Regions from separate parts of the Homo sapiens genome. Here all the other regions are reported to be linked to region 1. The links are microRNA targets in miRTarBase. Many come from high-throughput screens and were not tested one by one. Region 1 holds a microRNA gene; each other region holds the end of a gene's coding sequence.

Region 1 (7,114 bases):
CAGTAGAACTTTGGCAATTAAGTCTTTGATAGTCTTAAAATGGGTGATTGGCCTCACCAGGCTGAAAGAAAGGCAACTTTGTTAGCCTAGGATGCATGAGGTTGAGAGCAATATTTTTTTTTTCCTCTCCTCCTTTTCTCTTTCTAGAGGCAGTGAAGGTTTTGGGGCCCTACAGCCTGGGTTCACATCCTGGCTCTGCCACTCACTAGCTCTGTGCCCTTGGCCAAGATACTTCCTTTCTCTTTGTCTTTCTCTTCATCTTTCAAATGAGGACTAACAGTCGCCACCTGGAAGTGTTGCTGTGACGATCAACCCAGAGGTTGTATGGAAAGTGCCCAGCAGAGAGCATGGCACCTAGAGGTGCTCAGCAATGTCTGTTTCTTCCCTCAGCCCCTGGTGCTCTTTCTGTCCCTCCCCTGGTCCCATCATCTGTCCCTGCATCCAATGTCTTACCCTCCCCTGACAGAGCTTCAGTTTCCTTTGGGAATAGAGCCCTTGGCTGGCAGGTCATTCCTGGATTAAACTTGGAGCCTCCAAGCTTTATGAAGTCCAAGTGTGCTATTTTAAACCAATTGTGGACTTTTGTGTGGCGCTTCCGCTGAATGGAAAGATAATTGTACCAGAGCTTGTCGAGAAGAGTACATGGACGAGTCATGGAGCTTACATTCTGTCCCATTGATTTTTTTTTTCCTTCTTTTGGAGGACTTACTAGCTGCCATCTGCTCCTTGAACATCGTGTTCATAAATATATAAATAATCGAAGTTGATGAGGAGGTTTGCTTAAAGAAGTGTTGCTGAGAGTGATTTTTATAAATATTTAAGATAATCTGAAATCATTAAAGGAATTGCGGGGTTTATTAAAAAACTGAAGACGTGTTTTGGAAAGGATCCTTTTCTTTACAAGCTGAATAAATGTCAAGAGTAGAGAAATGAGGGAAGAGAGCTTTCTGAACGTGGACATGGGATCCGTGTGGGTGAGTGGGCAGCCAGTCTGTCTGACTCTGCCAGGCCTCAGCGTTCTTTTTTTTTTTAATTATTTTTATTTTTATTTTTAGTTTTGAGATGGAGTCTCGCTCTGTCGCCCAGGCTGGAGTGCAGTGGTGCGATCTCGGCTCACTGCAAGCTCCGCCTCCCGGATTCATGCCATTCTTCTGCCTCAGCCTCCCGAGTAGCTGGGACTACAGGCACCCGCCACCATGCCTGGCTAATTTCTTTCTTTCTTTTTTTTTTGTATTTTTAGTAGAGATGGGGTTTTACCGTGTTTGCTAGGATGGTCTCAATCTGCTGACCTTGTGATCCGCCCGCCTCGGCCTCCCAACGTGCTGGGATTACAGGCGTGAGCCACCATGCCCAGCCTAATTTTTATTTTTTGAGATGGAGTCTTGCTTTGTTGCCCAGGTTAGAGTGCAATGGCATGATCTCAGCTCACCGCAACCTCTGCCTCCCGGGTTCAAGCGATTCTCCTGCCCCAGCCTCCCGAGTAGCTGGGATTACAGGCGCGTACCACCACACCAGGCTAATTTTTGTATTTTTAGTAGAGACAGGGTTTCCCCATATTGGCCAGGCCGGTCTCGAACTCCTGACCTCAGGTGATCTACCCACCTCAGCCTCCCAATGTGCTGGGATTACAGGCATGAGCCATTACGCCTGGCCGCCTCAGCGTTCTTGAAAGCTTCCTGGGCTTCCTTGAGGGTCGGAGAGGGCCACTGAGTAATGTGTGCCAGGAGTCCCCCCGGGGAGCACACATTTCAGATTCTGCTTGTGAGAGTCAGTGGCGGGCTTCTAGAAGGTTCCTAAGGCAGATCTCTTTTGGTTAATGATGGGCTATGTTTTAGTGAGACCTGCTAAGGCCATAGTTCCGGAGGCTTCTAGGTGGTAGAAGCAAGGGAGGGAGGAGTTGGAAGAGAACTTTCCAAACTTGAGTGTGCTGCGCATCACGTGGGGATTGCCTCGGAGGTTCTGAGCAGGGGCTGGGGCAGGGTGAGATGCTGCATTTTGAACACTTTTGCACATGATGCGATGCCTCTGGATTGTAGACCATACTTTGAGTGCAGTGGGCCAGGAGATCATCCAACCTGACCCTCTCCCCTTCATTCATTCAGGAGCCAGGCTGATGCTGATGGTGCAAATCTCTACATGACCCTGGAGGTTTCCAAGTTAGCTTAGAGGAGGAGGCATGCATGCGAAAACACACATATGACAAAGTGACAAAGGCCTAGGATGGACCTCAGGACAGGTGACAGTGGGAGCAGGAAGGGGTGGGAGAGAGACCACCTCTGTCTGCCAGCAGGTGCTGAATAAGCCCAGGAGGGCCTAGATGCTGTGAGCCATTGAGATGGGGCTGCCTTCAGGGAGCGGGGGAGGAGAGGCAGTGTGAGCTGAAGGACTGAGCAGAAACCCCATACTCAGAGTTTCAGGCCTAAGCATCCAGTACTCTAATTTTAACACACAAGGGAACTGGGACCTCCTGGGGGGAAGCATCTTGACCAAGAGGCACAGTCAGGACTGGAACCTAGGCCTCTGGCTCCTGAGCCTGGTTTTTGCTCACCGCTCCACAGTGCCACCCTCTGCATCCACTGCTGTGTTTAGCAGTAAGGCTGTGAGAGCAGGAGGATGCTGAGGACTTTCTCTAGTTCAAAATGTACCTCTGCCCTTGACCTTCGTTCATCAGGGGACTAGGCACTTAAATCCACAGTGAAAAAGAAGGCCCAATGTGGGAAAAGTGACAGCTTTGAAATCAACATAAACCATGCCAGAGACTAATCCTCTTTCTGTCTTTTCCCCCTCCCAGCACCAGCATCCTTTGATAAGAAGGTGGGGGAAGGACAGTGAGGGCCCCGTTGTGCAGAGGAGTTAAGGATGGGAAAGGCTTGGGCGGTAGGAGGAAGAAAAGCTCCATTCTTTCCTCATCTGCCTAATAGAGTCTCCTGTCACTGGCTCTGTCTGGCCGCTTTAAGCTCTTTGGAATTTACATCCAGTGCTCACTCAACAAAGCCTATTGCATGGCAGGGCTGATGGAGCCCTGGGCCTGCTTCTCAGCGCTGCATGACCTTGGGCAAATCACATCCCACTGCAGAACCAGAATTGTCATTGATGAAGCTGGGCTACTATCACCTGCTTCCCTGGAATGTTTGGAGGATTGAGTGGGATAATGTGTATCAAAGCATCTAGCATAGTCTAGCAGAAAGCCTCCATATACACGTCCTTCTCCCATGGGGCATAGTCACAGGTGGGTGAGAGCTGTATGATTTGTCCAGGGCTATCCTTCTGGCAGAGATGGGATCTGAATTTAATGCAGGGGGACAGTTTTTCATGATGCTTTTGGGCCGGGCGCAGTGGCTCACACCTGTAATCCCAGCACTTTGGAAGGCCGAGGCGGGTGGATCACCTGAGGTCAGGAGTTCAAGACCAGCCTGGCCAACATGGTGAAACCCTGTTTCTACTAAAAATACAAAAATTAGCTGGGCGTGTTGGCTGGCACCTGTAATCCCAGCTACTCGGGAGGCTGAGGCAGGAGAATTGCTTGAACCTGGGAGGCAGAGGTTGCAATGAGCCAAAATTGTGCCATTGCACTCCAGCCTGGGTGACAAGAGGGAAACTCTGTCTCAAAAAAAAAAAAAAAGATGCTTTTGAACTCCTCAGATGGCTTTATGAAAAATGAAACACTTTGCCATGTTAGTGGTTGGCGCCTTTGAAAAAGGACAGTGGCAGGTTGAGAAGCAAGGACCTTGGAGCCAAGGAGATCTTTGATTCAGACCCGACTCCCTGACTGTGAAGTCTTTTGCACATTGCATAACCTCTCTTGGCATCTCAGTGTCTGTTTTCCAGCTTGTTGTGGCTCTTAGGTCAGAAGATGTCTGAATATGCCTGACATAGGGTCTAGCATCAGTGAGTGCTCAGTAATTTGAGTCCCTGGTCTACAGAGCCTCAGTGCTGGGACTCAGGGAGAGGAACATGTAGACTAAGGGAAGTTTCTTCACCAGCCCCAGCTTTGCTCAAAACCAGAGTTGAAGTAGAATGCAGAAGACGACGTGGAAGTGAAACTTGGGCAATAACTTCCTAAAATGTCTGCTTTGCTCCCCTGAACTCTGGTTTTGTGTCTTGCCCTCTGCTTCTGGGACACGAGAGACCAACCAGTGTGTAGACAGATCAAACAGGCTTGCAAATGAAAGAATCAAATGGAGATTTCTGTGTTTTCTGAAAAGTGGTATTTTACAGTCATTCCTAAACATGCCTTCATAACTCTCAAGTTTTCAGGTCTTGAGGGAGGAGTGAGATTCATCCTGCCATTCAACAACAGAACAGTCACTGAGTGTGCACCTCCTGTGTGCTAGGCCCCGTGATGGATCCACATGGGGAATGATAGTGTGTGCCCCACAGTCACCCCACACATGTCCCTGAGGCCTGAACAGCTTGGAGAATGAAGGAGTTTGGGTTTATTTCTTTGGGTTAACTTAAACTCAGCCCTTCTAGGCCCATTCTTTTCACTCAGGAATTGGATAAGCTTTTCTGAGGGGTTTGGAATGGGATGGCAGGGAGAGTCACCAGACACCATGAATGACAGGCCAGCAGGTTGATGGTGGCGAGTGGAGCAGGAGCTAGGGAGTGAGGTCACATTTCTGGACTATGTGTGCAGGCAGCTATGGACCTGGCAGAAAGCCCCTCTATTTATTTATTTATTTAGAGACAGAGTCTCGCTCTGTCACCCAGGCTGGAGTGCAGTGGCACGATCTCGGCTCACTGCAACCTCCACCTCCCGGGTTCAAGCAATTCTCCTGCCTCAGCCTCCCGAGTAGCTGGGACTACAGGCGCCCGCAACCATACCTGGCTAATTTTTGTACTTTTAGTAGAGATGGAGTTTCACCATGTTGGACAGGCCAGTCTTGAACACCTGACCTCAGATGATCTGGCCGCCTCGGCCTCCTAAAGTGCTGGGATTACAGGCGTGAGCCACCATGCCTGGCCTGGAAGCCCCTCTTAACAGGGCTCCCATCAGGATCACGTCGTGGGTTTCTGTGATTTTTTTGGTCTCCTTTATGGCAATATTAACTTTCTTTTATGGAGCATGGAGCAAGTGTCCTGTACTTTGTTGTTGTTGCTGTTTTTGGAGATGGAGTTTCGCTCTTGTTGCCCAGGCTGGAGTGCAATGGTGCAATCTCGGCTCAGCGCAACCTCCGTCTCCCAGGTTCAAGCAATTCTCCTGCCTTAGCCTCCAAAGTAGCTGGGATTATAGGCCTGTGCCACCACGCCCAGCTAATGTTGTATTTTTAGTAGCGACAGGGTTTCACCATGTTGGGCAGGCTGGTCTCGAACTCCTGACCTCAGGCGATCCACCTGCCTCGGCCTCCCAAAGTGCTGGGATTACAGGCGTGAGCCACTGCGCCCAGCCATGTCATATACTTTGAATATTTTATTTCTTACTTTCATGGTAACTCTGTGAGGCAGGTAATATTATTCCCGTTTTACAGATGAGGAAACTGAGAAAACCTGGAGGCTGATAAAAAGCAGAGCTGGAATTCAAACATACCAGGCCAGCTTCAGTGCCCACCTCCTGTTTTTACTACCTCCTTTGGGTGAACCTCAAACGTAACTGGAAAAGTCTATGAATGGAGTTGTGTAGCCGAGAGCAGACACTGCTCCTGCTGGACCCTGCTGGGAGAGGGCGGTGGTTTTCTCAGTGGGCATCTCATAACGGCGGGCATCTCAGCAGCCCTCAGGGCCAAGAACCACCTACTGCAAACTCGTCAGCCAAGGAAGCTCAGAATTTATAATTGTGGTTGTAAGTAGATTACTTGAGCTAATGTGAGCAGTGAGGTTTTTGGTAAAGTTAGTGTGAAACTGACTCATACTAATAATCTACCTCTTGATGCATTTGGTGTTGCGATTTGTAGCACTTTGCATTGTCTGCATACATGCATCCCCACTAGAAAAGATTTGGGGGAAAGAAGGGTCCTGAGACCATACACTCTGGGGGATTGAATTTGAAAGGAAAATTTCAATGTTTGGATGCTGGTCCATGTAGACTTGAGCAAATAAGGTGCACATAGGATTTATACCTCTGCTTTCAAGTCCCCCCACCCATTTTCTATATGTGACCTTGCCAGCATACTCTATGCATGTGTTCCCCCTTCTGCAGGATTTCTTTAATCTGCTCATACCTTGGGTGTGCTTACACTTCCTGGGTGGGAGGTTCCAGATATATGTGTGTATATATATACATATATATATACATATATATATGTATATATATACACATATATATGTATATATATACACATATATATGTATATATATATAATTTGTGTTTTTAGTAGAGACGGGGTTTTACCATGTTGGCCAGGCTGATCTCGAACTCCTGACCTCAGGTGATCCACCTGCCTCGGCCTCCCAAATAAATAAATATATATATATTTTATTTTATTTTATTTTATTTTATTTTTTGAGATGAGAGTCTTGCTACGTTGCTCAAGCTGGACTCACTCTCCTGGGTTCAAGTGATCCTCCCACTTCAGCCCCCCAAGTAGATGGGACTATAGGTGCACACCACTGTACCCGGCAAGCCAGATTCTTTTTCTTCTTTTTTTCTTTTGAGACAGAGTGTCACTTTGTCACCCAAGCTGGAGTACAGCGGCGTGATCTCGGCTCACTGCAACCTCCGCTTCCTGGGTTCAAGCGATTCTCATACCTCAGCCTCCTGAGTAGCTGGAATCACAGGTGTGGACCACCATGCCCGGCTAATTTTTGTATTTTTAATAGAGACAGTATTTTACCATGTTGGCCAGGTGAGTCTCAAGCTCCTGACCTCAAGTGATCTGCCTGCCTTGGCCTCCCAAAGTGCTGGGATTACAGGCATGAGCTACCGCGCCCAGCCTGGAGTCATATTTTTAATGAGCATTCTAAGTGATTCTGATGCAGAGGTCCCTGTCACTGGGTTAGAGAAATATCTGTTAAGGGTAATCTGCCCGTTGTCATCTATTCTGAGGGTGTTGGGCGTGGGGTGGCTGGTGTGAGATGGAAAGGACAGTGGAGATCACCTAGTCCCATCTTTTCCAGCCTTTACATTTTTTTTTTTTTTTTTAAGAGATGAGGTCTCACTGTGTTACCCAGGTTGATC
Region 2 (7,114 bases), not on the chromosome of region 1:
GTTTAACCCGTGCGTATCTATGACTTAGCATATAGATTATTCAATAAATGTTCTGCTGAATTGATAATACGTTTTCCACCTTTCTTTTCACTTACAGTGGGTAAAGGAAGAAGCCCCAGATATACTGTGCCTTCAAGAGACCAAATGTTCAGAGAACAAACTACCAGCTGAACTTCAGGAGCTGCCTGGACTCTCTCATCAATACTGGTCAGCTCCTTCGGACAAGGAAGGGTACAGTGGCGTGGGCCTGCTTTCCCGCCAGTGCCCACTCAAAGTTTCTTACGGCATAGGTGAGACCCTATTGATGCCTAATGCCTGAACTCTTCAAAACCAATTGCTAATTCTCTATCTCTGCCCCACCTCTTGATTGCTTTCCCTTTTCTTATAGTTTTTTATGCTAATTCTGTTTCATTTCTATAGGCGATGAGGAGCATGATCAGGAAGGCCGGGTGATTGTGGCTGAATTTGACTCGTTTGTGCTGGTAACAGCATATGTACCTAATGCAGGCCGAGGTCTGGTACGACTGGAGTACCGGCAGCGCTGGGATGAAGCCTTTCGCAAGTTCCTGAAGGGCCTGGCTTCCCGAAAGCCCCTTGTGCTGTGTGGAGACCTCAATGTGGCACATGAAGAAATTGACCTTCGCAACCCCAAGGGGAACAAAAAGAATGCTGGCTTCACGCCACAAGAGCGCCAAGGCTTCGGGGAATTACTGCAGGCTGTGCCACTGGCTGACAGCTTTAGGCACCTCTACCCCAACACACCCTATGCCTACACCTTTTGGACTTATATGATGAATGCTCGATCCAAGAATGTTGGTTGGCGCCTTGATTACTTTTTGTTGTCCCACTCTCTGTTACCTGCATTGTGTGACAGCAAGATCCGTTCCAAGGCCCTCGGCAGTGATCACTGTCCTATCACCCTATACCTAGCACTGTGACACCACCCCTAAATCACTTTGAGCCTGGGAAATAAGCCCCCTCAACTACCATTCCTTCTTTAAACACTCTTCAGAGAAATCTGCATTCTATTTCTCATGTATAAAACTAGGAATCCTCCAACCAGGCTCCTGTGATAGAGTTCTTTTAAGCCCAAGATTTTTTATTTGAGGGTTTTTTGTTTTTTAAAAAAAAATTGAACAAAGACTACTAATGACTTTGTTTGAATTATCCACATGAAAATAAAGAGCCATAGTTTCAGCCTTGCTGTCTTCGTGTCTTACCCCTTCGTGGGGCTACACATTCTCTTCCTCATATTTTCATGCACACAAGTTAACAACTGAAAAAGCGTAGAGTCATGACCTTATTTATTTACAAGCACAGGATAAGTCCCTAACCTCCCCCAAAGACTGAGCAACCCTACCCAGCCCAGTTAAATACTGCAACTGGGGGGGTAAAAAAGGTCGGGAGGAGGAATTAAGGGAAATACAGGAATAGGGGAACATATCCCACATTAAATAGTTATATACACATCAGTTCCTGTGGTTCTGTACAGAGCAGCGGCTGACCCCACCCCCACAGGACACAATGTGGGGAGAGGAGACTGAGGGTACTGAGGCCAGAGCCAACCTCTGGTGAAGTGCAATAGCAGCAGCAAAGTCCTAATGGTGCACAAGAGGGAGGGGAACCCCCAGGGCTACCCACCCCCACCCTGCCCTGGAATGTGTAAGGGACAGGAATGGCTCTCAGGGAGCACACAGGAAGGACAAGGCTGGAACCGTCTTCAGGGCCCAGTTTTAAGGGCAACGTTTTGCCTACTTCACCCTAGACACAGCAACCCTTGGAGGAAAGCAGATGGTCAGCAGTGCTCTTATCTGCCCCTCCAAACCTAAGTGAGGGCCTGGTTCCTTCCTACCTCTCCCCAGGGAAAAGGAAGGCAGCTGCTTGGCTTCCTTCTAGAAGCCCCGGGAGCCTTTAACTACCCCAGCTCCCTTCGTAGTGTCACTGTCCCCACCAGGGAGGGGCCAGGCACAGTCTGTGGGTCATCAGGCTCAGGAGAAGTTCTGGACAGGGTGGCTGACCTTCATACAGGCCCAATAAAGAGCCCGGCCCAAACACAGCACAGCCAACAGGATGACAAATGCCCAGGCTGCATAGATGCCTCCATATCGCCGTGCATGCTTCCATGTGCCAAACTGATGAAGATAAGGAGGGAGAAGAAAAGAAAGATGGGGTTAATGTTGGTCTCCACTACCTCCTATTAGTTCTAAGAACAGTAATAACTCACGCTTCAGTCCTTGTTCCTTATCCACATGTAGCCACCCTCAGGGACCTTCTTAAAGGCAGAGCTGATCAGCTTCCTTCCCTTAGGCGTAACATACTCATCCCATCCCACACTGTATCTCAGTTTTTCTTAATATCTGACAACTGAGCCAGGTTTGAAAAATAGCAACTCTTAAATTAAGAATTTCACTGTCCTATCCTCATCCTACAGAGAAAGGAAGGCTGTTTTTCACTCTTGTAGTAGTAATAAAGTCTGTTTGATCAGCCACTTTGCACTTTAGCTCATCCATATCTTAAAACAAAACAAACTAGTCCCCCAAGTTTCTTCCACTTTTTTTTAGGGTAGCAGTTTCCCAAATCTTAGCCTATGGAGATGAGGCTGCAGAATGAAAGAGGTTGGGGCAAGGGTACTCACGGCAAGGCCAGTGGCAGTGACTGCCAAAAGCAAGCCAAGCAAGAAGCAGCAGATACATCTCTTACGTGGGTATCTGCGCCCAATAGATGACCTGTGGGGAGGCAAATAGAAATGGATGCTTTCTATGGCCTTGTAGTTTTTACTCCATACATCAATTACCAGCTCAATCCCTAATCACTTACACTTTCCTGCAGTGAGGACAACGTGCCAAAGTGCGGTCTGTGAACTCTGTCCACTATGGAGAAAGAAAACAAAAATAATAGCACAAGCAGGGTCTCCCTCAATGAGAACCTTGGGGTGGGGATGCAGAACATGTTCCCATAGGACAGACCTTTCAGGGGTCATTACCATTACTCTAAGAAATATACTCGAAATGACTCTTAGTCTCCTTTCCCCTCCCCTTCCCAATACCCCTTCCTCACCAGAAAAGTATTCTTGCAATGTCCACAGATAACCCTGACACCCATGGGTTGGGGTTCTGGACTCAGAGGTCCGGGATGCACAGGCCCCAGGTTGATGATTCTTTTGCTATACAAAAGAAAAAGACTTGTATTTTCAAACTTGTGTTTGAAAAATTTTTAATCCTAAAAATCTTCACAGTCCCTGTTCCACATCCCCCACTCCCTGTCTATTAAGTCACTCGACTTCTCTGTACTTAAGATACTCTGTCCCCCAACTGTATACCCTCAAGAATCCTTGAGAAAGAAAGAGCACTGTTTAAACTTCAGGTCCCCAATTCCCCTCCGACCTCAGGATAACACACCCAGTCCCCAAGGCTCTCTATTCTCCGAAACGACATCATTTCATCTCAATATTTTTATTGAGAAACGAGAAAGACAGCTATAACATTCCTGAGGCACATGCTTCAAAGCCTTTTCTCCTAAATAAACACTAGGCTCTCTCACCTTTACATTCTCTGTATACGCTCATCCTTTTTTGACTTTCCAGTTCCCCACTTAGGCCCTTCCCCACCTTATGCCTCTTACCAGTAGGGCCGAGGGCATGCAATCCGTTGGGATGTCACTTTGCAGATAAGGAGACAGTTACAGGGGCATCGAACATATTTTTTCCCTGGGGGTGCATTCTTGATTGGCTAGAGAATAATAGGGTCATCAGCAAGCAAACCTCTAATCCCAATCCCCTCCACTTCCCTCCAAAAACACTTTATGAGATCAGAAAAATAAGGTGCTAACCAGGAAGGAGAAATAAAAGAAAGACTATATCATGAGATTTGCAAATAGGAACTAGGCTAGGTGTAAAAGTGAGAGAAAGTGAACATTAGCTTTGGTGAGTGGCTTCTGGGGAAATGGCTGTGTGAGACACCTGGAACTGAAACCTGGGTATCATCAAAAGCACTTGGCTAATAGCCGGAAGGTCAGGGTCTAGAACCAAGACATCAGAAAGAGGATCCAGGAAACAGGGCCCATTTCATAGATATGTGTAACTCACGGTGGCTTCATTGCAGACACCACATTTGACTACATGCTGATGCATCTTGCCTTCCACGTTGATGAGAGATTGGCAGACTCGGCAGGTGATCATAGGGGCACTCCCACTGTCCGGGCTAGTTAAGGGTGAATAGGGGGGTGGGTCCTCCCCAGGCAACACGGCTGGATGCCCCTCGGGAAACGGGGGAAATGCTGGAGAGGAAGCAAATAGAAGGGCTGGGATCACTTACACCCCCACTGATGCTCCACGGTGGTAGGGAAGTCCTTCTGATCTTCAACCCTCTGACCAAGCTCGGAGGGCTTCTCATAATTGGCACTTCTATCAGGTTGCTCAGAACCCCCTTCCGTCCCTAGGCTGTGGTCGCGATTACGGAGGGAAGGAAGCCTCGCCCAGTCACAGGTGCAGCAGTCCCGCACCTGGCGACTGGGACCCGCCTCCGCCCTCGGTCCCGCCCCCTCCCCGGCTTTCAGAGTACCCCGGGGAGCACCTCGGACCCGCCCCGGCTTACCCTGGGGCGGGGCATGTTTACCGGCTCCGTACGGTGGTGCGGAGGGGGTCAGGCCTCCCCCGGGCCCAGCCCCACTCCCGCCGGGCCCCACTAAACCGTTGCCGCCCGCGCCACCGTCGATGGGCTCAGACAGCAGCGGGGAACGCTCTCCATCTGCCGCCATGGCCGCCACCGCCGCCTCCCGCTCAGGTCGGCGATCCGGCTCCCTTCGCCTCTGCCGTCGCCGCAGCCACCGCCACCGCCGCCACCGCCACCGCCGCTACCGGGTCCCCAGGGCGCCTGCGCGCCGCGCGCCCAGCTCACTCCGCAACCAGTGGCCTGCCCCGCCCCGTTCCGTCTAGCAGCACGTGATAGGCTATCCCCGCCCGGGTCATGCTATTATTCGCGTAGATAAACCAATTCCTGGTCCTGTGAAGGCAGCTCTCCTTTTCCATTGGGGAGCGACGCACAAACGTCAACTGTCACATGACCTGCCAGATGCTGCTGGGCTTGCAAAACCTGCACGTGACTAGAGGTTCTGCAAGCTATTGGGAGCGACGCCCATCGCGCTACCTCCAGACCAGGAGGTAGGGCTAGGCTGCGTCTGCTCAACTGGTCACGTGTTTCTGGAAGCTGCACGGTCCCTGTTGCTCTGCTCCTCATTGGTTCAAAGACACCACTAAAACACTTTTCTCCGGCTTTGCGTTGTAGCTGGTTTCCTATTGGCTGGTGACTTTACTTCTTTCGTCCTGTGATCCTAGCGGCGCAACTGCATTGGCCCGAACTTAGCGCCAGAACATGGGGGGCGTGGCTTATGCATTTTAAAGGAGGCTGGGCGGGTGCAATAAAGGAGTGCGGAAGCTTGGGATCTTCTGAGCGGGGAGAAAATGGACGGTGGGGAACAGTAGACAAAGTTAGCTGTTCTACTCAAAGAAGTACCTTTAAAAAGTCAGAGTAATGAGGTACCAGAAGGAAATGGATTAAAAAGTTAAGATTATCACTCCAGCCTTTGTCGCTAGAGTCACTTTCAGGACAGGACACAAGACTGGGTTTTCCTGGAAGCTGTCCTTACAGAGCCCCGTCTTTCCCCATTGCTGATCAAATTGTTAAATTATCTTTTCATTAGTGTCTCCACTACTAGAAGATTTCATCGTTTTACTAAAAAAAAAAAAAAAAAAATTCAATAGAGATGGGGTCTTGCCTATGCTGGACTCAAACTCCTGAGTTTGATCTCCTGCCTAAGCCTTCCCAGTAGCTGGGACTACAGGGACAAGCCACCGTGCCTTTACTCAGTTTTATGACCACCAACCTTTAACATACGCACAAGTTTGTAGATTGGATTAATCAAATACAAGGTTATTTTCGTCACCTTATTTGACAGATGGGACAGTCTTTAGGCCTGTCTCAACTTTGCTTCCAGCAAAGGGGCAGTGCCTCCTCCCCTACCTGAAGTCTCGTGTGGTCTTTATGGGCGCCTGAACCACACCTGGATTTTTTCCCAAGTCATAGCCCAAACTGGGACTGCTTTAAATATGGGAAGCAACAAGGAATTGATAAAAACAATAAACCCCGAGGAGGTCCATTATCAGTTTGGCTAGCAGACTCTCCACTAAGAAAGGAAGTGCATCAAAGAAAGTACAGCCAGCCCCAAATATGTAATAACAAAGGAACTGCAGATGTCCCAGCACTTGGCTGCTACAGGGGCTGGAGACTTCACCTAGGTCCTGATTTTTTTAGACAGGGTTTTCTCAGGCCAACTTCTACTTGGAAGCTAGTAACCTTCGACCAGTTAGATAAGAGCCCCTAACAGACACTTAAAGAACTAAGGAAGCTCCAGATACAAAATAGGGAAGAGGTTGTAGCTCCATAGAGGGAGGCCAGTCTGCTGCTTTTTCTGCTGTTTGTGGCACACAGATGCTCAAGCATTGTCTGGGGTTGGAGTAGGATCCATTATTTGCGCCCTAGTTACACATATATTCCAAAAACTGTCCTAAAAATATTTTTTAAATATCTACACTTTGTGAAAGACACTCCTTAAAAAAGCTTACACTCTGGGTAGGGAGACAGAATAGTGTAAACATTGACAGTATAACATATCAGGTCAGGAGTGGTGGCTCATGCCTGTAATCCCGGTGTTTTGGGAGGCTGAGGTGGAGGATTGCTTGAGCCCAGGAGTTCAAGGTTACAATGAGCCATGATCTAAACCTGGGCAACAGAGCAAGATCGTGTCTCAAAAAAAAAAAAAAAAAAAAGAAAATCAGCACTAGTATTTTATTACATGGAAAAATATCAATACTAGAAATTCATGATACAGCACATGCTTCATAATAAAAGAATTAAACAATGTAATTCAAGTTCAAGAAAAGAAGAGATCACTTCTAGCTAGAGCAGCCAGAGAAAACTTCTAAAACATAAAGAAAAATGAGTATTGTGCATGGATAACTAGGATCTGAGCTCTGTGTTGTTGAGTAGATCAATAGGCAGAAAAATGCAAAAAGTAATCATAATATTTGGAACTTGCTCACAGTTAATAAAGCATTTTT
Region 3 (7,114 bases), not on the chromosome of region 1:
GGGCGCGGCGGGGAGGCAGAGGCAATGTGCTGAGTCAGCGTGACTCGCCAGGAACAGCCGCGCTCTGGGCAGTGCCGGGGTTATTTTTAAAGCTCCCGGCTTCCTTCTAGGCCTGCCTCTCCCGCGTCTTATTCCTTCTAATCTCTCCCCTGCCCCTTGTCTTGCGCCTGCCTTCCTAACAGCCTTCAGTTCCCCTTCTCCCGTCAGACCTTCCTGACCTCCCACCTGGTTCTCTAGGGGCAGGGTGGACAGGAAGCAGCTCAGCCCAGCCTGGGAGAGGCCAAGGGCTGCCTCCTATCAGGTATTGGGGGCTGGGCACCTGGACAGCAGGCTGGGGCGGGCTGTGCGGCAAGGGCTCTTGTGAACTGGGCCGGGGGCGGGGGGGGGGGGGTGCGGCGAGGGTGGTCTCCAGGGTACTGACCTGCTCCGTGTCTTGCAGAGAGCGCCTGCTCGCTGTGCCCCCGGGTTATGACGACCCCCAATAAAGGAAACAAGGCCTTGAAGGTGAGTGGGCAGGGACAGGAGCCTGTGGGCTGGGGTCGGGGGGCACAGTGGGCGTGCCCGCTTGGCCTGTGACCACCTGCACTGTGCCCCAGGTGAAGCGGGAGCCGGGTGAGAATGGCACCAGCCTGACGGATGAGGAGCTGGTGACCATGTCGGTGCGGGAGCTGAACCAGCACCTGCGGGGCCTGTCCAAGGAGGAGATCGTCCAGCTGAAGCAGCGCCGGCGCACGCTCAAGAACCGCGGCTACGCTGCCAGCTGCCGCGTGAAGCGGGTGACGCAGAAGGAGGAGCTGGAGAAGCAGAAGGCGGAGCTGCAGCAGGAGGTGGAGAAGCTGGCCTCAGAGAACGCCAGCATGAAGCTGGAGCTCGACGCGCTGCGCTCCAAGTACGAGGCGCTGCAGACCTTCGCCCGGACGGTGGCCCGCAGCCCCGTGGCGCCAGCCCGGGGCCCCCTTGCCGCCGGCCTGGGGCCCCTCGTCCCAGGCAAGGTGGCCGCCACCAGCGTCATCACAATAGTAAAGTCCAAGACGGATGCCCGATCGTAGGGACGCGCGTCTGCCCAGGCGGGTCTTTGCGGGGCCACTAGGCACATGGCGAATTTGGCTGCCCTGTCCCTCTGTTTCCTTCTCTTCTCTTTCCTCCCTCTCTTCCCCACCCTTCTCTCTTCCCTGCAAAGCACAACCTGTACCCCAGGGGCGCCGGGCTGAGCCCCTTTGATCTCGTCATTGTCGTCGTGTGTTTTGTATGTTGGGATTGGTCAGTTCGGCGGTGACGTGGGGTCGCCCCAACCCCTTTTGTACCAGGGCCATGCAGGCTTGGAGTCCAGAGTTGGTGCTGTGGGAACGGACTAGAGAGAGTTGCGGGAGAGAGAAGGAGCAGGCACGCTGGGCCTCGCGTGTCCCCGAGCAGTGAGGGTCCCAGTGTTCCCTCCACTCCCGAGTGGCCACAGGCTCGCGGGCTGGGAAGGATTCACTCTCTTTAGCCCCAGGGGAGCAGCTCAGCTTAGCCCAGCATGAAGAGATGGGCTCTGCTCTGAGAGTAGGGCGGGCTTGAAGGCCCTGATGGGTGGACCACCAGCCTGGGCGCAGTGGTGCTGGGGGCGTGCAGCTGGGCCCAGGGGCTGTGCACTCAGGCCTGACCCGTTGCACTGAACAAGACCAAATCTCTGGTTGTGCGCTTAACGTGAGGGTGGGTCCAGTGTGCCCTGCGATGGGTCCCGTGTCACTGTTTACATGACCTATTTGTGTGGTTATATAGCCCTTTATTTAAAAGAGAGAAGTTCCTTTTACAAAGTTATTAAATTAATTATATGTTTAAAAGTTAAAGAAAAAAGAGCTGCAGAGTATTTATAAAACTGTCTTTTAGAAAAAAAACAAGCAAGAAGACCATTTGACCATATGAATGGAAAAGGGAAGAAAGTATAATAGAAACTTTGCTAGTTAAAAAAAAAAGAAAAAAAAAGAAAAAAAATCCCTTTCTTGTAAACTTACGGACACCTCTTTGTGGCTGTTGGAGTTTAGTTTTTATATACACAGAGTTATCAGACATTATTTATAAAACTTAGTTTAAAAAAAAGACAAAAAAAAAAAAGCCAAGCCGTGAGCCGACCAGAAGGCCGTCCTCTTTGATATCTTTTGCAATTGTACCGAAAGTGACTTACTCCTCTGCCCTTCCTGCTTCCGTCTCTTGCCGGTGCCGTGGTGTCGTCCGTGCCTGGTGAGGTTTTGTGCAGCGGTAAAGTGCTGGTGCTTCTGGTGACCTTTGACCTGTGGGTGTCACTTCTTGTGTCTGTTTTCCCGTGTTCGTTTTTTGGGTTTAGTTGTGCTTTTGCTTCTGCTGGCTTGCTGGACCTGGGCTGGGGTGCCAAGTGGCGCCTGCTGCGTCAGAGCTCAAGGAATCTGTGCCCACCACCAGCTCCTGGTCCGTAGGAGGTGAGACATGGGGTTCTGTCATGCCCCCCTCCACTGAGCCTTGGCTACATCTGTGTCTAGGGCTTGGGCTGATCTAGTGGCGGGGTAGGTGAAACTGGGGTCCCTTGGGGCGCCCCACGCTGCTTCCACACCCACCACCTCTGGCCTTGGGTGGTGGCATTACAGGGATGAGGGAGTCACTGTGGGTGGCCACAGGGCTATGGCCAAGCGTTCCCTGGCCGTCTTCCTCTGGCCTCAGCTTTGTTCCTATAGGCTGCCCGCGCCGTGGGCTGCAGGTCTCGCCGCCCGCTTGATCCCTGAGGTGTTTCCATGCTGCGGGTGGTGCTTCCAGGCAGAGTGGGTGGGGGCCCACCGGGCACCGCCCTTTCTTCCTTGTCCCTGCCTCACTCTGAGAGCCTTGGGGGTCTCCACCAGTGCAGACAAGGGCTACAGTCTCCAGGGCCGGGTCTTGTCCCTCTTCTCCGCTGGTCCACGCTGGCAGCTCTTGGCTTCGGGCCTGCCTTCTGCCTCCCTTTGGGATCTGTGTCTTCCAGGGATCAGCTGCTTGGCTTCTGCTGGAGGTGCCTCCCTGTGGGGGCGCAGCCTGCCTCCTGCTCTCAGTTCCTCGCCAGAGGCTGCTGCCCTTCCTGGCTGGGCTCAGGAGGCTCCTTGTAGGCATATGATGGGGAGGGGGTGCCCCTACCCACCTCCAAGAGGCTACAGCCCTGTGTCTGGCCATGTGAGCCCTGGCCTTTCACCGGGTTGCTGGTTTCTTTTCTGTGGGGCCCAGACTTCTGTAAAGCACACAGATGTGGGTAAGATGAAAAACTGTGGCCCAACAGGGCTTAACCCTATGGATGGTGGGATTTTTATCCAATAGTTTGGCCTGGTGTGCCCACAGGATGGGAACAGGGAGGCACCATCAACACTTGTCATGTTAATGAGCTTTTCTTTGCTCGAGGTGTTCAGAGACAAGTCCTGTGTCTACCTGCGTCAGCCTGAAAATGGAAATATTGGCTGTTGACTCTTGTCATTTAGTGACTTCATCCCCCTCCCCTCAGTCTGATCTTGTCTAAGTAGAATCCAGGCGTTAGTTGGAATCATATCATAAGTATCCATGAAGAAAACGTCATGATCTGCCTCGGAGTGGGGAGAAACAGGCCCTCCTTGTCCTTGTGCAGCCCCCACTTTTGTCCTGGCTGTGGGTGGCCATCCATTTTGAGCACCTCTGCCAGGCTGCAGACCTGGAGGCGAAGGGAGTGTGGAAGAGGAGGGTGTAAGGGTCGACGCGTGCTGAATGGGAGGTGCAGGTCCTCGGTGCGTTGGCAGAAGAGGCTTCTGGAGTTTCGAGGCCATACCTCCTTTCAAGAGCTTTGGATTTGGGGCGACTTCCCTGGGTCTAGGGGAGTGTTCCTGTCCCCTGTCAGGTCAGCCCTGCGGAGCCACTCCACCCCTCTTCCCCTTCCCCTGGATTTCCTGACATAGATGGTGTGTTCATGTGCAGGTGTGAGTGTGCTGTCCTTCTGATCTCTGTTGATCCCGCTTTCCTACTGAGAGGGTGGTGGAGAGGGTGGTGGTCTCTTCTCACCTCAGTTTTTCTGACACAGCGAATCGAGGGCTTTGGCCAAGGCCAGGTCTCTCAAACTTGTCCGCCAAGTAAACCATGATATATGTCTTCCCTTCCACCTTAACTTTGCCCCAACTCCTCTTTTATCCTAACATGGACGCTCAGATTTCAGAGGAATACCCAGCAGGGACAGGTCAGCTCTCACCAGGAGAGTGAGGCCCCTGGCTGCTGCTCGGGGTGGCACTGGTGTTGCTGGCTCAGCTCTTGGTGCATGTTTCAGATATGTGTGTACACTTCTGACTGGTGATCAGGGCCCGGCCCACGGCCCTGAGCGGCTGCAGCCTGCTTTGGGACGATGGTCAGGTCCCATGTTGTCCCTGCTGCCTCCCTCTGGAGTGGCCACTTGGCCAAAGCGCCCATCCACATCTGGAAAGTCGGAGCCGCAGCCTGCTGCACCGTTTCCGCTCTGGGATCTTGTGAGTTACTTTTTTAGGCTGTGGTTTGGTGAAAGGAACCAACACATTAACGATTTTTCCCCCAGAAGCCACTGAATAATTCTTTTTGGTGTATTTTTGCCTTCCTGTTGGCTGTCTGGCCTTGGAGCAGGTCGGGAGAGTAGAGTACATAATCAGTGCCACACAGAGGCAGGGCGTGTCTGAGAGACTAATGCCTGTCCTGCCTCTGGCCTGTGTCCTGGGTGTGTACCATACCTGCTGGGCCAGTCCCACACATTTCCACCCTGCCCCTGGAGCAGCAGCTTTGATACCATGGGTGTCCCTTGAGTCTGAGCTAGAGTGTGTCCCCGATAAACTGTGAGACCTCCCTGTTCTTGGTGACCCCAGTTGGGCTTTGGCCCCTCCAGCAACCTTGTGTCCCAGCCCTGCCCTTCTTCCCACCCCCTCAATCTGCTAGTCCCTGAAGCCTTTAACCAAACGGGAGTGGGCACAGAAAGCCTTCTCCTGGCAACAGGACAAGGGCTGCCCGCGTGTCCAGCCCTGTTGCTCTCCTGGCGCTGAGAGGTGGGTCCAAGCAGAGTTGATCAGTCCCTGCCTGCCCTGCCTAGGTCTAGCCAGGGGAGGTTGTGTGTGTGGGAGAAGACCCCGGGATCTGCTGGGGTGGGATGGAGGTTATTAAAGATCTAAGTGAGGAGGGGCTGGGGTTTGGATGCGGGGTGAGGCCCGAGCGCTCACACTTCGTGTAGGGCGGGCAGGGGCCTGACCTCTTGCAGGGCAGTGGCCTTGGTGCCCTACCCCTGCCCTGCGCAGTATTTATTGCTAAATTATTGTCCAGGAGGGGCAGCACTGGGCCTGGCCCCCCGGGTATTTATTGCTGTACATAGTGTATGTTTGTGATATATAAGGTTTTCTTTATTTTGTATATGATCAATAAACCTTTTAAAGAGACTGGCAGGTGCTTCTTTGGGGCGACGCGGCGGGCGGAGCCGGAAGGGGTGGGTGGGGGCGGGGCCCATCTTGCGCATGCGCCCTGAGCGCGGCCTGCCGTGTGAGGCGGAAGCGGAAGAGCAGGTCTCCAGGGGAGCGATGGCAGCCGGGGGTCTGAGCCGCTCCGAGCGCAAAGCGGCGGAGCGGGTCCGGAGGTTGCGGGAGGAGCAGCAGAGGGAGCGCCTCCGCCAGGTACGCCGCCGCCGCTCCCCGGCCCGGCCATGCCCGGCCCGCGCCGCCGCTCACCGTCCGCCTGCCCGCAGGTGTCGCGCATCCTGAGGAAGGCGGCGGCGGAGCGCAGCGCCGAGGAGGGCCGGCTGCTGGCCGAGAGCGCGGACCTGGTAACGGAGCTGCAGGGCCGGAGCCGGCGGCGCGAGGGCCTGAAGCGGCGGCAGGAGGAGGCGAGTTCCGCGTGCGGCGCGCGGGCGCCCCCGGTTTCGGGAGCAGCTGGGGCGACGGGCGGTCCCGGGTGGGGCGGCCCGGGGCGGTGACCACCCTGGCGTCTTGGCAGGTGTGCGACGACCCGGAGGAGCTGCGGGGGAAGGTCCGGGAGCTGGCCAGCGCCGTCCGGAACGCCAAATACTTGGTCGTCTACACAGGCGCGGGAATCAGCACGGTAGGGAGGGAGGCGGAGGCGTACCCCAGGACGGAGTATGAGCTCCAGTAATCGCGAAAAACTCGCCTTTAAAGCAGCTCTAAGGTTTTTTCTCTTAAAGAAACGAAATGACCAAAACTTACCTAAGGTAAACGCTTTTTAAACGCTTGGCCTCTGTGTTACAGCCAGTTAAAAAAAACAAGGAGTAGAGATACGAATGGGGTGTAGTAGCCGACTGCTCGCAGGCACCCCCAGGTTATGTGGACAGAGCTAAGCCCAAAGTTGTGATTTTCCACTCTGTTCTGTCCATGTCGAGGGAAGATAAGTAGAAAGTGACACAGTAAGAGCCAGAATACACCAGGTGAAGGAGAGAATTGCATTGTGTTTTGAGAAGTTTCACTGACAAGTTATCCTGGGCTGTGGGACATCACTAGCTTTGAAAGTGTAGCTGGCACCTCGTCCATCTAATTTGATGGGTGTGTGTGGGGTGTTGGGCACGCGTCGGCCTAGCAGATCTGAACCCAGGTGATTTCTGTTCTCAGGAAGCTTTTAGGTGACAAGGATCAGGCATGTGAACAAATAACCATACTGTAAAGCTGGCTGTGCTGGGTCGCTAGAGCAAACTCAGACACACACTCTGCGCTCTTGGAGTTGGGAAACCCACCTGCGTTGGCTTTTTGTGGGAGGTGGCCTTGATTGGGCCTTGAAGGATGGGTGAGATTTACAGAAGGTTGGAATGAGGCACTCCAAGCAAAGAACAGCAGAGGCTCAGCAGCAAGAATGCAAAAAGGGAGTTCACTACTGACTCAAATACCCGGAGCCCTGGGGTTTAGTCTCCTCCCTCCACAAGTCACATGTAAAAGTCCAGTCATGCTGGGCGCGGTGGCTCATGCCTATAATCCTAGCACTTTGGGAGGCCGAGGTGGGCGGATCATGAGGTCAGTAGTTCAAGAACAACCTGGCCAACACGGTGAAACCCTGTCTCTACTAAAAATACAAAAATTAGTCGGGCATGGTGGCGGGCACCTGCAATCCCAGCTACTCGAGAGGCTGAGGCAGGAGAATCACTTGAAACTGGAAGGCGGAGGTTGCAGTG
Region 4 (7,114 bases), not on the chromosome of region 1:
GATACAATGGGGTGAACATAGGTGGGGGCCCCAGTGGTTTAATTTCTCCTGTTCCTCCATTTCAGGTTTTGAAGAGACAGGGGACACGCTCTATGCCCCCTATTCCACACATTTTCAGCTGCAGGTAAGTGATTTTTTTCTCCCTCTTCATCAAAGGCATTAGCACCTCAGGAACACTGATCCTTTGGAAACAGACGATGTTACCTTTCTCATGGCCCCTAGATGGCCACTTGAAGGAATGATGGGTCTTCTTTCCTCTAAGCGGCCTCACGGGGTTAGTGGGTAAGAATGAGTGCTTGGCATAGAGAGGACTTGGGGGTGGGAGGCCTGGGAGAAAGGGAAGGAAATGAGACTTCTGCCCAGACTGGAGACCTGTTGAAATGGCAGGAACTGGAGTGGGTTTCACGATATGACTGTTTCCTTTTCAGAACCAGCCTCCCCAAAAGGAATTCTCCATCCCACGGGCCCACGCTTGGCCGAGCCCTTACAAAGACTATGAAGTAAAGAAAGAGGGCAGCTAACTCTGTCCTGAAGAGTGGGACAAATGCAGCCGGGCGGCAGATCTAGCGGGAGCTCAAAGGGATGTGGGCGAAATCTTGAGTCTTCTGAGAAAACTGTACAAGACACTACGGGAACAGTTTGCCTCCCTCCCAGCCTCAACCACAATTCTTCCATGCTGGGGCTGATGTGGGCTAGTAAGACTCCAGTTCTTAGAGGCGCTGTAGTATTTTTTTTTTTTTGTCTCATCCTTTGGATACTTCTTTTAAGTGGGAGTCTCAGGCAACTCAAGTTTAGACCCTTACTCTTTTTGTTTGTTTTTTGAAACAGGATCTTGCTCTGTCACCCAGGCTTGAGTGCAGTGGTGCGATCACAGCCCAGTGCAGCCTCGACCACCTGTGCTCAAGCAATCCTCCCATCTCCATCTCCCAAAGTGCTGGGATGACAGGCGTGAGCCACAGCTCCCAGCCTAGGCCCTTAATCTTGCTGTTATTTTCCATGGACTAAAGGTCTGGTCATCTGAGCTCACGCTGGCTCACACAGCTCTAGGGGCCTGCTCCTCTAACTCACAGTGGGTTTTGTGAGGCTCTGTGGCCCAGAGCAGACCTGCATATCTGAGCAAAAATAGCAAAAGCCTCTCTCAGCCCACTGGCCTGAATCTACACTGGAAGCCAACTTGCTGGCACCCCCGCTCCCCAACCCTTCTTGCCTGGGTAGGAGAGGCTAAAGATCACCCTAAATTTACTCATCTCTCTAGTGCTGCCTCACATTGGGCCTCAGCAGCTCCCCAGCACCAATTCACAGGTCACCCCTCTCTTCTTGCACTGTCCCCAAACTTGCTGTCAATTCCGAGATCTAATCTCCCCCTACGCTCTGCCAGGAATTCTTTCAGACCTCACTAGCACAAGCCCGGTTGCTCCTTGTCAGGAGAATTTGTAGATCATTCTCACTTCAAATTCCTGGGGCTGATACTTCTCTCATCTTGCACCCCAACCTCTGTAAATAGATTTACCGCATTTACGGCTGCATTCTGTAAGTGGGCATGGTCTCCTAATGGAGGAGTGTTCATTGTATAATAAGTTATTCACCTGAGTATGCAATAAAGATGTGGTGGCCACTCTTTCATGGTGGTGGCAGCAGTTACCAGTAATGAGCATTAGACTCTGGGGGATAGAACACGGGCTGCCCTGAGAGCTTCATGTTGGAGCTGAAGTTCAAGGTTCACTTCCTTTGGGTTTGTACTTGACCCTTCTTCATGTGTCTCTCCCGTTCCCTCTAAAACAAGTGTGTTTCCCCTCATTTTTGAGGCTGTCAATGGTGTGAGAGCCAGGATCATCACGGGGCCTGAGGTTTTACTCCAGAAAAGCAGAGGAGTGGCAACCTTGGCTTGGGGTTTGGCAGCCCAGGAAAGGCAGGGAGGAGAGCTCAAAGCCGGTTTCATGTTTCACCCAAGGTCTAATTGTGGGAGAGGACAAATCCAGATCCCCTGTTTGACAGAATTAGTTCACAAATGTCTCTTGGCAAAAACATGTGACACCTAACCATGATAATTGACTTAATCCAAGAAAGAGCTCTGTAGGGCAGAGCAATAGGAAATCTCTCTTTCGTTATGGAAAAAAAATAATCCCTCTACATAGAAACTGAGTGACATGTAAAAATGTGTAGCTAAGTCAGGGAGTTACTTCCTAAGAGCCTGACGCTCTGCTTTTCATCAAAAGGAAAAACCAGCGTGAGGCAGAGGCGAGGGAGGTGGAGGTGAGTGGATGATGTGCTGAGTTAGGGATGTTTATATGCCGCAAAGGTTTGGTTGGTAGGCTTCGCGCTAAGATTAGCCTGGCTTTGTACTGAAAAGGGGGAAGGACACATAGTGACACAGATCCTTCTGGTCTTTCCCAGGAGGTGTGACCTAATGAGGTTTGTTGTGAGAATAAAGCAATGTGGTTTCACATATATTATCTATCATAGGCTAGGGACTCAAGAAATGCATATTCCCCCCCCACTTTCTTTCTCTCTTTCCTTCCTTCCTTCCTTTCTTCTTTCTTTCTTTCTTTCTTTCTTTCTTTCTTTCTTTCTTTCTTTCTCTCTCTCTCTCTCTCTCTCTTTCTTTCTTTCTTTTTGAGATAGAGTCTCACTCTGTCATCCAGGCTGGAGTGCAGTGGCATGATCTCAGCTCACTGCAGCCTCCGCATCCTGGGTTCAAGCGATTTTCGTGCCTCGGCCTTCTGAGTAGCTGGGATTACAGGCGTGCGTGCGCCACCACGCCTGGCTAATTTTTGTATTTTTAGTACAGACGAGGTTTCACCATGTTGACCAGGCTGGTCTTGAACTCCTGATCTTAAGTGATCTGCCCGCCTTGGCCTCCCAAAGTGCTGGGATTACGGGTGGGAATCACCATGCCCAGCCTCCTTTCCATCTTTTCTTTCCTTCTCTGGTCTTCATACTACCAACCAAGCAAGGGAGGAGGAGTAAAAGGTAAAATCACAAAATACTCTGGATCGGCATTTTTTTTTTTTTTTTTTTTTGAGACAGGGTCTAGCTCTATGGCCCAGGCTGGAGTGCAGTGGCACAATCATAGCTCACTGCAGCCTCAACTTTCTGTGCTCGAGTGATTCTCCTGCCTCAGTCTCCTGAGTAGCTGGGACCACAGACGTGCACTACCACACTTGGCTAATTTTATTTTTTCAGAGATCACATGTGGTTTGAGGGAGGATAGAGAGGACAGGGTGTCAAGAACAGCATTTTTACCAAGTTGATATAAAAATGAAACAGGATCCAGGCATGGGTCTTTACACTGATAGTTACAGTAAGTTTTAAAATCTGAGCAGCAATTTGAATCACTTGTTGAAAAACACACAAAATATATTTTTTGTAGAGGTGGGGGTCTTGCTCTGTTGCCCAGGCTGGTCTTGAACTCGAGATTCTCCTGCTTTGGCCTCCCACAAGTGCTGGGATTACAGGCGTGAGCTACTGCACCCGGCCTGCTTTCTTTTTAGTGAAAAGGATCTGTGGGAGCTTTTATTCCCATGGCTGCCTTCCTCAAGTCAACCTCTTTCCCCGGAAATGGCATCATCTCTGGACTGTTGTTTCTCCTTCTTCCTTCTCCTCCTTCTCCTCCTCCTCCTCCTCCACCATGCCCGGCTGATTTTTGTATTTTTAGTAGAGACAGGGTTTCACTATATGGGCCAGGCAGATCTCGAACTCCAAACCTCGTGATCCACCTACCTTGGCCTCTGAAAGTGCTGGGATACCGTGGCCTCTGAAAGTGCTGGGATTACAGGCATGAGCCACCGCGCCCGGCCCCGTTGTTTCCCTTCTAAGAAACGCAGTGGTCTCTGAAGCCTGCAGGGGCAGGCCAGCCCTGCACTGAACGCCTGTTCTTGCCAGGTGGCAGAAGGTTGCTGCTCATTTGAGCAGTACCTGTCACCCCTCCTCCCACTGCTGCGGCTGTTAACTCATCTTCAGGTCTCACACCTTCTGCACATAAATAAGCTATTTTTAAAAGTTATTATTTTTTTACTCTTTCTTTTCTTTGGAGAGGGTACCAAAGGATAGCTGTTCTGTTTAAGTAGGGACCTCTCATGGCCTACAGGCTTTGACATCTGAGAATCAAACTGGAGAACATTCCGAAGCCGTTCTTATAAGTGTCTCCATCTCTACCTGGGCTGAAATGGAATGTGCAAATGTAGCCCAGCCTGGTCCTTGGGTGTTGCCAGTTGATTGATGACTGGGAGCCAAAGTGGCATCTCCTTTGACCTAAACGGGCGATGATGAAATAAAACTCAACAGCCTTTCTCTCATCTTGCATTGTGAGATGCGAAATAGAGCGTGTCTCTCTGCCTCTCATTTTAGGCTGAGGCCGTCCAAAGCGGCCATGCCCCATGTTTCCACTAGATGGCGCTGACACTTCAGGCATCAACCCTCATGGCCTCTCAGCCTTGCAAAGGCAGCCACTTAAAGTCGGTGTCCTGTGTGGGGCACCAAGCTGAGCTGCAGACACCCAGTAGGCGCGAGGCAAATGCGTCCCATTTTAAGAGGCTTGTATTTATGAGCTCTTTGCTTCCTCCCTCCCACTAACTTTAAAGAATTGCTCTCCATCTCCTTTGGCAAAGTTCCTTTGCCCTTTGTCTTATTTTTGTGAAACCCTCCAAGGTATTTCCAGTCCATTTGCATCCAATCTGGCATCTTTACGGAGAGCGGTCTCATATGCTATTGTTGTTAACGTGGACTAGTATTTATGTGTTGAGAACACTGGCTGTTTGTCAGGAAAAGTGTGCCAAAACAAAGAGTACGGCCGGCCCTGGAAATGCATCAGCAAAACCCATTTCCCCCGTGCACTCATTCTGAGCTTCCTTCCTTCATTTCTGTCATTACTGCTGAGAACTGGACTGTGCCCAGCTGACCTTTCCCTTCCTTGCCCTCATCTTGCTGCCAGGGTCTGCAGGTTTGCCACCGTCCCGGCCCCAGTCTGAAACATGGGATTATTTCAGAATTGGAGGTGGCAGCTTCAGAAAAAAATCCTTCTCGTGTGTTGACTGCTGAGATCCAGGAACTGGGAAATCAACCCCCAGTTTGTAGATTGCTCTCTTTGGAAATTCTGTGGCCCAACCTCGTGGCTGTTTTCTGGAATTCCTTCTATCGGGGCAGACAGTGCTGTGCCTTTCTTGACTTCAGGATGTTCCAAGGATGCTGCTGGATCTGTGTGTGTGTGTGTGTGTGTGTGTGTGTGTGTGTGTGTGCGTGCGTGCGTGTATGTGCGCCTGACCCTGATTTCTGCAACCTCCAGATTTCTTTCTTGACCCTTCAAAGTGGAACAGTCCAGTGCCAAAAATTTTAGAGTTTGAGAAGGTCACAGAAATCCTCTAGTTGGTGCCTCCACAGTCTTCATTTTACAGAGGAACTCAGGGCTAATGGAGTTAATGCAACTAGATCAGGGTTTTGGGTCTGTGTTCTTTCTACCGTCAGCACCTGTGTGGTCAATTCTGGACACTTCCCAGAGAAGTCTTTGAGTAGAGAATCCTACTCAAATTTCACTGTATATTTTAAGCATTCCTCTCCTTTCCCTTTGCCTCCCCTGTTGCCTTTTCTTCCCCTGATTTCTCCTCTGGTCATCTCCTCTCCCTTCTGCGTGTAAGCCATGGGAAAGGGATGAGGGAGGACAGCTTCTGGTTAAACACAGGTCCCTCTTCCACATCAAATGAACATTGGCTTCCTGGGACAGAAGGCCTTCAAAGGAGGGATTGCAAAGCAAGGCAAAGCGTTCTGTCTTCATTTTCCCCATCCCCATGAGACAAGACTGATGGAAAGGGTGGTGGGGCAACACTGCTTAATGGATGCCTTTTCACATCATTTCAGTTTTTAGCCCTCATGACTGTATTTTCTAATCAGAGACAATAACATTTTAAATAAAACAACGACAAAGAAGTCTGAGTCAGGTGGTAAAATTTGTTGTTTTCAAGCACCATCTTTTGATATACTTGGTTTCATATCATAATGTATTCAAGGTTTCAACCGGTTCTTACATGCTCCCCTTTACTGAGATTTTCTTTTTCTAAAAAAAAAATTTAAAAAATTTTAAAAGTAATTTTTTTTTCTTTTGGGATAGGGTCTTTCTCTGTCACTCAGCCTGGAGTGCAGTGGTGCGATCACGGCTCACTGTAGTCTCGACATCCTGGGCTCAGGTGGTCCTCTTGCCTCGGCCTTCTGAGTACTGGCTGGGACCACAGGTGCACACCACCACACATGGTTAATTAAAAAAAAATTGTAGAGGCAGGGTCTCCCTATGTTGCCCAGGCTGGTCTTGTACTCCTGGGCTCAAGTGATCCTCCTCCCTCCGCCTCCCAAAGTGCTGGAATTGCAAGCATGAGCCACCATGCCCAGCCTGAGATTTTATTTTCCATTCATCTTTTGACTCATCTCAGAATTGACCAGATTCAGCCACTCTTACAAGAAAGCTCAGGATCCAGTAAACAGTTAATTCTTTATTTTTATTATTATTTTTAAGACAGGGTCTTGCTTTGTCGCCTAGGCTGGAGTGTAGTGCTGTGATCTCAGCTCACTGCAACCTGCATTTCCTGAGCTCAAGCGATCCTCCCACTCTGCCTCCTAAGTAGCTGGGACTAGAGGCGTGCGCCACCACGCTTGGCTAATTTTTGAAATTTTTTTTTTTGTAGAGATGGGGTCTCACTATATTGCCCAGGCTGGTCTTGAACTCCTGGGCTCAAGCAATCCTCCCACTGTGGCCTCTCAAAGTGTTGGGATTGCAGGTGTGAGCCACCATGCCCCCAACCAACAGTGAATTCCTATTCACTTGTTTGTGTTATTGATTCCTTCAACTTCCCTGAGGCCCATAGTGAGCCAAAAACCCACACCCATCCCCCTTCTTTCTCTTTGCATGGAATTCTGGCTCCCTTCAGGGAGTAAGTGCCACACCTGGAAGAGCCCTCCCTCCCCGTGCAGCTTCTGAGAGCAGGTGCAGAGGTAGTCCTTGGAGATCCGTGCAGACAACTTGTGTTTGTAATGACTCAGCCAAGATGTTTGTCCCGAGCCCAGTGATTCAATCCAAGTCCAATCCAATCGTGGTCTTCAGCAGAAAAGAAATGACATGTTAGTGAAATTT

What was found. Region 1 holds the annotated microRNA hsa-miR-5194 (UGAGGGGUUUGGAAUGGGAUGG, at 4,511-4,532, shown strand). A microRNA usually pairs through its seed, bases 2 to 8, with sites in the 3' UTR of a target mRNA and lowers its output. Matches are read on the target gene's strand: a 7mer-m8 pairs with bases 2 to 8, a 7mer-A1 pairs with bases 2 to 7 and ends in A, and an 8mer does both.
Region 2: miRTarBase lists APEX1 as a target of hsa-miR-5194. Seed matches in the 3' UTR shown: 7mer-A1 at 976-982.
Region 3: the mRNA of MAFG is a reported target of hsa-miR-5194. Seed matches in the 3' UTR shown: 7mer-A1 at 3,468-3,474, 7mer-m8 at 3,864-3,870 and 7mer-A1 at 4,878-4,884.
Region 4: miRTarBase lists GPRC5A as a target of hsa-miR-5194. Seed matches in the 3' UTR shown: 7mer-m8 at 1,306-1,312, 7mer-A1 at 1,791-1,797 and 7mer-m8 at 3,921-3,927.

Annotation. Positions count from the first base shown.
Region 1 is chr8:130,005,778-130,012,891 of GRCh38, reverse strand. It overlaps MIR5194 (microRNA 5194), which reads left to right and starts at 4,439; the gene lies at 4,439-4,558. The region is part of intron 1 of CYRIB (CYFIP related Rac1 interactor B); the gene reads left to right. It overlaps LOC124902025 (a long non-coding RNA gene), which reads left to right and starts at 1,572. Exons shown (of 2, transcript XR_007061113.1): 1 at 1,572-2,236.
Region 2 is chr14:20,456,571-20,463,684 of GRCh38, forward strand. It overlaps APEX1 (apurinic/apyrimidinic endodeoxyribonuclease 1), which reads left to right. Exons shown (of 5, transcript NM_001641.4): 4 at 98-290; 5 at 421-1,197. The coding sequence ends at 938. PIP4P1 (phosphatidylinositol-4,5-bisphosphate 4-phosphatase 1) reads right to left here and starts at 4,864. Exons shown (of 7, transcript NM_144568.4): 1 at 4,614-4,864; 2 at 4,085-4,275; 3 at 3,622-3,728; 4 at 3,058-3,163; 5 at 2,818-2,870; 6 at 2,636-2,726; 7 at 1,111-2,132. The coding sequence starts at 4,755. The coding sequence ends at 1,989. RefSeq lists silencers at 520-814, 4,319-4,488, 4,549-4,958 and enhancers at 4,184-5,150, 5,079-5,148, 5,151-6,116, 5,449-5,528.
Region 3 is chr17:81,916,540-81,923,653 of GRCh38, reverse strand. MAFG (MAF bZIP transcription factor G) reads left to right here. Exons shown (of 3, transcript NM_002359.4): 2 at 440-504; 3 at 597-5,384. The coding sequence starts at 469. The coding sequence ends at 1,049. It overlaps SIRT7 (sirtuin 7), which reads left to right and starts at 5,478. Exons shown (of 10, transcript NM_016538.3): 1 at 5,478-5,615; 2 at 5,687-5,824; 3 at 5,935-6,039. The coding sequence starts at 5,523. MAFG-AS1 (MAFG antisense RNA 1) reads right to left here and starts at 755. Exons shown (of 3, transcript NR_186500.1): 1 at 422-755. RefSeq lists enhancers at 1-745, 5,229-5,278, 5,397-6,293 and a silencer at 5,409-5,878.
Region 4 is chr12:12,912,019-12,919,132 of GRCh38, forward strand. It overlaps GPRC5A (G protein-coupled receptor class C group 5 member A), which reads left to right. Exons shown (of 4, transcript NM_003979.4): 3 at 66-124; 4 at 429-5,919. The coding sequence ends at 521. MIR614 (microRNA 614) reads left to right here and starts at 3,811; the gene lies at 3,811-3,900.